Regions from separate parts of the Homo sapiens genome. Here region 1 is reported to be linked to region 2. Evidence: microRNA targets listed by miRTarBase, many of them from high-throughput screens and not tested one by one. Region 2 holds a microRNA gene; the other region holds the end of a gene's coding sequence.
The links. The annotated mature microRNA hsa-miR-6852-5p reads CCCUGGGGUUCUGAGGACAUG and lies in region 2 at 1,104-1,124, shown strand. An mRNA with a match to its seed (bases 2 to 7 or 8) in the 3' UTR can be bound and repressed. Matches are read on the target gene's strand: a 7mer-m8 pairs with bases 2 to 8, a 7mer-A1 pairs with bases 2 to 7 and ends in A, and an 8mer does both.

Region 1: the mRNA of FITM2 is a reported target of hsa-miR-6852-5p. Seed matches in the 3' UTR shown: 7mer-A1 at 1,577-1,583 and 7mer-A1 at 344-350.

The regions. Positions count from the first base shown.
Region 1 is chr20:44,303,371-44,307,436 of GRCh38, forward strand. FITM2 (fat storage inducing transmembrane protein 2) reads right to left here. Exons shown (of 2, transcript NM_001080472.4): 2 at 1-3,870. The coding sequence ends at 3,255. Among named protein-coding and RNA genes, the nearest start is that of FITM2, 5.8 kb to the right of the region's middle.
Region 2 is chr9:35,707,774-35,711,839 of GRCh38, reverse strand. It overlaps MIR6852 (microRNA 6852), which reads left to right and starts at 1,099; the gene lies at 1,099-1,164. TLN1 (talin 1) reads left to right here. Exons shown (of 57, transcript NM_006289.4): 29 at 48-245; 30 at 446-585; 31 at 758-851; 32 at 954-1,043; 33 at 1,157-1,279; 34 at 3,356-3,499; 35 at 3,948-4,066. RefSeq lists an enhancer at 1-1,059.

The DNA of each region.
Region 1 (4,066 bases), not on the chromosome of region 2:
TATGTCAGGCTGTTTCACATAGGAATAGAAAGCATGCTCCCAAGGAAGAGGCAAGGGGGCTAAGCATGGACAAGTGGCGGAAGCCTCATCGATACAGAAGGCTCTGCAATTGACACTTTCCACATACAGTTAATTTAGTGCTGAGCCCGCATCAGACCCACGTGGGATAAATATCTGGAGATTTAAGTGTCACAAATGAACTTCTGGGGTCACCCTGTGCCTATTCCCTTTTGGTGCTGAACATGACACTTTGGAGAGCCTTTTTTTTTTTTGAGACAGAGTCTCACTCTGTCGCTCAGGCTGGAGTGCAGTGGCGTGATCCTAGCTCACTGCAACCTCTGCCTCCTGGGTTCAAGCGATTCTCCTGCCCCAGCCTCCCGAGTAGCTGGGATTACAGGCGTGTACCACCACACCTGGCTAATTTTTGTATTTTTAGTCGAGACGGGGTTTTATCATGTTGGCTAGGCTGGCCCAACCTCAAGTGATCCTCCCATCTCAGCCTCCCAAAGTGCTAGGATTACAGGTGTGAGCCACCATGCCTAGCCTAGGAGAGCTTTCAATCCCTTCAACAAGCCCCTGCCATCTACTCCATGGCCACTCCCACCACTGGTTTATGGGCATAGGCAACAGAGGGTCACATCTTACCAACGCCTCCAAAGCACCATGGTGCCACCTCCCATATCTCATCACCTGTGTTTCTGCTCCTTTTGGGTGCAACAAATCATGACTCATTGTGATGGATAAAATTAACCTCCAACTTGATGGGATATGAAATATTTAAAATATATCCTTATAGTAAAAGATTTTACACCGAAGATTCATCCTCAACCACTTAAGCTTCAGTGAAGCCAGTCAGGTGTAGTGCTTCTCAGTTAATGCTACTATTGGACTTGATTGGAGAGAGGGGCATCAAGGCGGCCTTAAGGGTGATTACCCCAACAGCAAGGGGCTCAGTTTGAAAGGCTTAAGGAGACAGTCTGGGAGAGAAGAGGGGATATCTTATCACAGGGCGTGGAACTGTGCCTTTGTGGATGGAGGTGACAGGATTTCTAACCCTTCCCAGCATTGTCACAGCAAAGGCCACAGAATGACAAAGCTGGAAACTGAAAAGTGCTGCAAAGGGGAGAGAAAAAGGAAACTGATTTCAAGTCCAGCTGAACAGGCCCAGGTATGGTTTGGTTTAGTTTGGTTGGTGATGCAAGTAACAGGAGGGAGGGACCACAGCCATGCCACCCTTCAATAAGGGTGATTTTGCAAACAGGTTGGCTTTTTGCCATCAGAGGGAGGCATTTTACTTCACTTCTGAATTATCATAATCTTGTCCAACAGGTACAGATGCCCTGGGCCACAGCAGAGTGATCAGTGCACTCAGCACATGACCCTGAAGCACACTGTTCAGTCTATACCACTGATATGTGGTCAGGGACATTTCGGTGCAAGAACGCATTCTGCAAAATTACCTTGATTCACCTTAAAATTCAACAGGCTGTTACTAAAATGCCTGCTTTCTGGTTTGATTATCTTATTTATTTATAGAAACCAGGGTCTCACTATGTTGCCCAGGCTGGTCTCAAACTCCTGGGATCCAGTAATCCTCCCACCTCAGCCTCCCAAAGTGCCAGGATTATAGGTGTGAGCCACTACACCTGGCCCAGGTTTCATTGCTAACAGAGAAAACAGCCCCATGAGGTGGAATTTAAGACTGTAAGACCAGAGTTTGGTTCATAACAAGTACATTAGTGTTCTAAACCAACCAACCAATCAACCAGCCAACCAACCAACCAACAAACCCTCAAAACAACCTACATGTGCCAGAGTGCAGCACTGGCCTTGTGAGTTATTTTCAGGAGTTTTATCAACAAAGAACAAATGTCACAGTTCTTATCAAAAACTGTAAAGGATTCGCTCAAAATAGAACAGAAAAAAAGTAATCTTATTGCTCCAAAAAAACCAGCATATAGTAATAGAAAACATGGACAGAAAATGATCATAGTCCATTACGTATGAATCATCCAATACTTGGTCGGAGAGGCACTGCATCTAAAAGGGCCTGTTTTGGTGGCTAATCGCAAGTCAGTTGCAATATTTAAACACTTCATGGATGAAACAAATATTACAACCAGAGAGTGTCCTTCAGGCATCAGGCTGTTTTTATAAAGAACCCTGCCTGAGCCGGGCGCGGTGGCTCATGCCTGTAATCCCAGCACTTTGGGAGGCCGAGGCAGGTGGATCACCTGCGGTCAGGAGTTTGAGACCAGCCTGACCAACATGGAGAAACCCCATCTCTACTAAAAATACAAAATTAGCCTGGTGTGGTGACGCATGCCTGTAATCCCAGCTACTCGGGAGGCTGAGGCAGGAGAATCGCTTGAACCTGGGAGGTGGAGGTTGCGGTGAGCCGAGATCGGGCCATTGCACCCCAGCCTGGGCAACAAGAGCAAAACTCCATCTCAAAAAAAAGAAAAAAACCCTGCCTGAAATAGATGCCTATGCAAAACTGACCAGTGGGAAATACTGTTTTGTTTTGTTTTTTCTTTTTTGAGGTGGAGTCTGCTCTGTCACCCAGGCTGGAGTGCAGTGGTGCGATCTCAGCTCACTGCAACCTCCACCTCCTAGGTCCAAGCAATTCTCCTGCCTCAGCCTCCTGAGTAGCTGGGATTACAGGCATGTGCCACCACACCCAGCTAATTTTTGTATTTTTAGAAGAGACGAGGTTCGCCATGTTGGACAGGCTGGTCTCGAACTCCCAATCTCAGGTGATCCGCCTGCCTCGGCCTCCCAAAGTGCAGGGATTAGAGGTGTGAACCACCATGCCTGGCTGGAAAATACTGTTAAGTAACAGCAGTAAGAGCCGTGAAAATCTAAAGACAACTGGAACCAGGGAGAAGGCAGCAAAGGAGTCCCAAGGCTCTGGCCACTCCTTTAGCCACACCATAAAGGCTTTCCTGATTCTGCCCTTTTGCTGAGCCTTAGGTCCCCACTCTAGGGACAAAAGGAGTGTTCCAGATAAAGGTCAAGTCTTACCAGGGACAAAAAGTGCCTAACTGGGAATGGTGGTGCTTGCAACACTGGTGATGTCGCCAAGAATAGTCTGAAGACTAAACTCACTCCCCAGACTTCAGCACCACCCACCAAAACTGCCTGGTACACTTTCCCTCTGAAGTAGGATCAATAATTTAGCCAAATAACTAAGCAAAATATATATTTGAAAAATAGATTAGCCATTGTCCTTCTGTCCCCCCTCTGTTACTCTTTTATTTCTTGTAACTATCTTGCTTCAAATTCAAACTACAGCTCTGGGGAGGAAGTCCTGGGGAAAAGGCTTTCGGATACCAAAACCCGTATGTCCCGTACCAGCTCAGCAAACCAAACAAGGTGCCAAACACCTTCTGGGACAAGTTGTGGAAATAAACAGCTGTGCACAGAAACATCAACACCCAGATGAAAGTCAGAATGCCCAGGGCCACAACCAGGGTGGTGATGGCGGTGTGGAGGCAGTGGCTTCGGTCCGTCTTCACCTCATGCAGCACAGACATCTCTTCTACAATCATGAGGGCGCAGAAGGTCAGCAGGAAGGAGTGACCTGAGATGTCAAAGCCATGCCAAAAGCCCCCTTCCTGGTGGCACTGCTGCTTGCTCTGGTGTTCCTTTCTGACCCCCTCCAGGGCTGGGGACTGGTAGCAGCTGCCCGTGTAGTGTTCGATGTTGGAGAAGATGGAGGTGCAGATGTACCAGATGGCCGTGCCCACAAGCAGGGTGCTCAGCCGCCGCAGGACCAAGCCAGCCTTGCCGGTCAGATGGTAGTTGGTGAGGGCAATGAAAGGCAGAAGGAGACAGAACGTCCAGGCCCAGGCCACTTTGACAAAATACCTGACAGAGGAGGAAAGTGGAAGTGAAGAGAGGGAACACGGTGGAGAGGACACCATGTCAGGACTCAGGTCTCTACACTGTCAGGGGAGGGAAAATGAGAAAACTGATCAAAGCTACAGCTCATAGCAACTATCATGTTTTAGGTACTTACCATATACTTCACTTACTAAGTACTTTATTTATTTATTTATTTATT
Region 2 (4,066 bases):
TGCATCATTCCCCACTCTTCTGTCTGACTTCCCCTCTCACCTTGCAGCTTCCTCCTAGCACTGGGACATTTCAAGAAGCTCAGAGCCGGTTGAATGAAGCTGCTGCTGGGCTGAATCAGGCAGCCACAGAACTGGTGCAGGCCTCTCGGGGAACCCCTCAGGACCTGGCTCGAGCCTCAGGCCGATTTGGACAGGACTTCAGCACCTTCCTGGAAGCTGGTGTGGAGATGGCAGGCCAGGCTCCGGTATGAAGAGGCAGAGGGTCTGGTTGAATGGTTCCCACTAAGGGTTAGATAGGAGGCAGTTGAGTGACCAGTCCTGACTTGCTCCTGGCTCCCTTCCCTCCCCAGTCTCTAGCACTACTTGAGTGTCTGGGAAAGAAGATCCCTTTTAGAGACAGATAAGAAAGGACAGGACAATGCATTGACCTTGTCACCTTCAACAGAGCCAGGAGGACCGAGCCCAAGTTGTGTCCAACTTGAAGGGCATCTCCATGTCTTCAAGCAAACTTCTTCTGGCTGCCAAGGCCCTGTCCACGGACCCTGCTGCCCCTAACCTCAAGAGTCAGCTGGCTGCAGCTGCCAGGTAAGTAGTTGCTGAGAAGCCCAGCCCTGGACTGTGTGAGAGAGACTGGGGAGCAGGCAGTTCATGAGAGCTTCTTGGCTTAGGAATGGTTATAGGCAAAAGATAAATACTTACATAGGACCCAGGAATGATGACCTATTCACCTTTTCACTCAACTTTCTGTCACTCCCAGGGCAGTAACTGACAGCATCAATCAGCTCATCACTATGTGCACCCAGCAGGCACCCGGCCAGAAGGAGTGTGATAACGCCCTGCGGGAATTGGAGGTAGACACATGGCAGGCTGATGGCATTGAGGTTGAGGGAAGTGTTCTGGTTTTGGGCCTGAGGGAGGTGTCTTGGATCTCACTTTGCCCTCCCCCTACACAGACGGTCCGGGAACTCCTGGAGAACCCAGTCCAGCCCATCAATGACATGTCCTACTTTGGTTGCCTGGACAGTGTAATGGAGAACTCAAAGGTCAGCACAGCCAGGAACTCGGAGGAGAGAGGGCAGTAGGATGGAGCTAACCAGATGCTGCCCTGGGGTTCTGAGGACATGCTCTGACTCCCCTGATGTCCTCTGTTCCTCAGGTGCTGGGCGAGGCCATGACTGGCATCTCCCAAAATGCCAAGAACGGAAACCTGCCAGAGTTTGGAGATGCCATTTCCACAGCCTCAAAGGCACTTTGTGGCTTCACCGAGGCAGCTGCACAGGTTATTTTCCTGAGATGGGTTCTTTGAATGGCCCCTACTTTCTTTACCCCATTTTCTCTCAGCCTGACATACCTGTAGATAAATCAAGAAGTTTATGTTTGCAAAGCCAACTCTATGGAATCTGGGTTGTCCTCCTCCTGAAGTGGAGACACTTGTCAGCAATTACTGAACACCAGCAGTTCTGATTTCTGTAATTCCTGAACCCTGGTACTTTGGTTAGGATTACACTGCCCAACCGTGAGGCCTTTTCCAGCTGGCTTTCTCAAAATATACTAATTAGCTTATACAAACTATTTTTTCATGTTATTACTACTTTCTTTTTTTTTTTTTTTTTTTTTGAGACAGCGTTTCGCTCTGTCGCCCAGGCTGAAGTGCAATGGCGTGATCTAGGCTCACTGCAAGCTCCGCCTCCCGGGTTCACGCTAGTCTCCTGCCTCAGCCTTCCAAGTAGCTGGGACTACAGGCGCTCACCACCACACCCGGCTAATTTTTTGTATTTTTTTTTTTTTTTTTAGTAAAGACAGGGTTTCACCATGTTAGCCAGGATGGTCTCGATATCCTGACTCGTGATCCACCTGCCTCGGCCTCCCAAAGTGCTGGAATTACAGGCGTGAGCCACCGCGCCTGGCCTGTAATCACTACTTTCTTTTTTTTTTTTTTTTTTTTTTTTTTTTGAGACCGAGTTTCGCTCTGTCGCCCAGGCTGGAGTGCAGTGGCGCGATCTAGACTCACTGCAAGCTCCGCCTCCCGGGTTCACGCCATTCTCCTGCCTCAGCCTCCCGTGTAGCTGGGACTACAGGCGCGCGCCACCATGCCCGGCTAATTTTTGTATTTTTAGTAGAGACGGGGTTTCACCGTGTTAGCCAGGATGGTCTCGATCTCCTGACCTCGTGATCCGCCCGTCTCGACCTCCCAAAGTGCTGGGATTACAGGCGTGAGCCACCGCGCCCGGCCAATCACTACTTTCTTAAAATAGTACTAGTGACAAAATTTCCAGTTACTTGAGTTATCACTTAACTTTGCCTTTTCCCACATTATCAAGTATAAAACTACCTATTAGCTGTAAAGTATTTTGCTTTAGTATATGAATCCTTAAAACAAACTGGCATCATAAGAGTTCACTTCAGACTATTTTCCCTGAAAGCCTACCATCCTAGCCCTCCATCTCCACCACCTCCCTGTGCCCTGTCAGAATAGGCGCCTTGCTCTAGATGGCTTGTTTGATTTTGTTTTTTTGTTTTTTTGGTTTTTTGTTTGTTTGTTTTTTGAGACGGAGTCTCGCTCTGTCGCCAGGCTGGAGTGCAGAGGCATAATCTCGGCTCACTGCAACCTCCGCCTCCCGGGTTCAAGTGATTCTCCTACCTCAGCCTCCCGAGTAGCTGGGACTACAGGCGCCTGCCACCACACCCGTCTGATTTTTGTATTTTTAGTAGAGACAGGGTTTCACTAAACCTCTTTGTTGTTTGTTTGGTTTTTTTCCCCCCACCTTCTGAAAATGCATAGAGGAAAAAGCAAAGCTACTGTGTATTGATTGAAGTATGAATCAAACATTAGGATGTTCTTTCCATCATAAAAATGGCTTTTTAACCCCTCCCTTCCTTTCCAAATATCTGACGCATGGAGGTGCTATAAATGTGAATTAGCCTAATAACCTTCATCAGTTTTGAACTGTCTTTAAAAGAGGCTTTGCTTGTGTGCACAAAGGTGTGTATTTATATATGGCTCTCAAACGTTTTACTGCTACTTACAGTAAGCCATACTTTTCACTCTAAGACCCAACATACACAAACATATCTAAATAGAGATTGGATAAAAACCCTTGCTATGTAGTTTTCCTTTTTATTAACTTTTTTAATCTTCTGAAATGCTTGAATATACTTAATGAAAACAGGAGAGTATTTTTTTTCTTCTTTATAGTGTAACCATTGTTTGCTAATGTATCTCCACTCATGGAGAACTCTGGAAAATAAGCCCTATTCTCTAAACTTACCTCTGCTCTCTTTTGTCCCTACTATCACTATTCATTTCCCACCTGCAATCTTTATTCCTCACCCCCACCCCCTTTTCTCTTCCCAGGCTGCATATCTGGTTGGTGTCTCTGACCCCAATAGCCAAGCTGGACAGCAAGGGCTAGTGGAGCCCACACAGTTTGCCCGTGCAAACCAGGCAATTCAGATGGCCTGCCAGAGTTTGGGAGAGCCTGGCTGTACCCAGGCCCAGGTAACTCAAGGGAACAGGGACCACAGGCGAGTCTGGGAAAGGGCAGACCGACCCCGTGGAGTAGAGGGAGGTGAGGCATGTGGGAAAGAGGGCAGGGACCCATCTCTGACCTTGCACACACAGCTTCTTTTTGGGTAACTGTCTTTTTCTGCCATGGGTCTCATCATTTATCAGTTACTGCTAAATTCACAACTTCTCTGTAGATGTTCGAGCTTACTCTCCCACATGCCCTCTTATGGTTTCTCCATTAGTATGTCTTTCCTCTCCCATGCCCAGTTCATCTTTGGGTATCTCTGTCTCCTAGATCTTGACTTTTCAGGTGACTCTGTTATTCCTGTTTTGACTCCTCAGGGTATTGCTCTCCATCCCCTGACCCTAAAATGGCTCCTCCTTGGGTATGTACACCTCCTTCCTGCCCTCATCGTGGCTCTTCCATGTGTCTCCTCAGGTGCTCTCTGCAGCCACCATTGTGGCTAAACACACCTCTGCACTGTGTAACAGCTGTCGCCTGGCTTCTGCCCGTACCACCAATCCTACTGCCAAGCGCCAGTTTGTACAGTCAGCCAA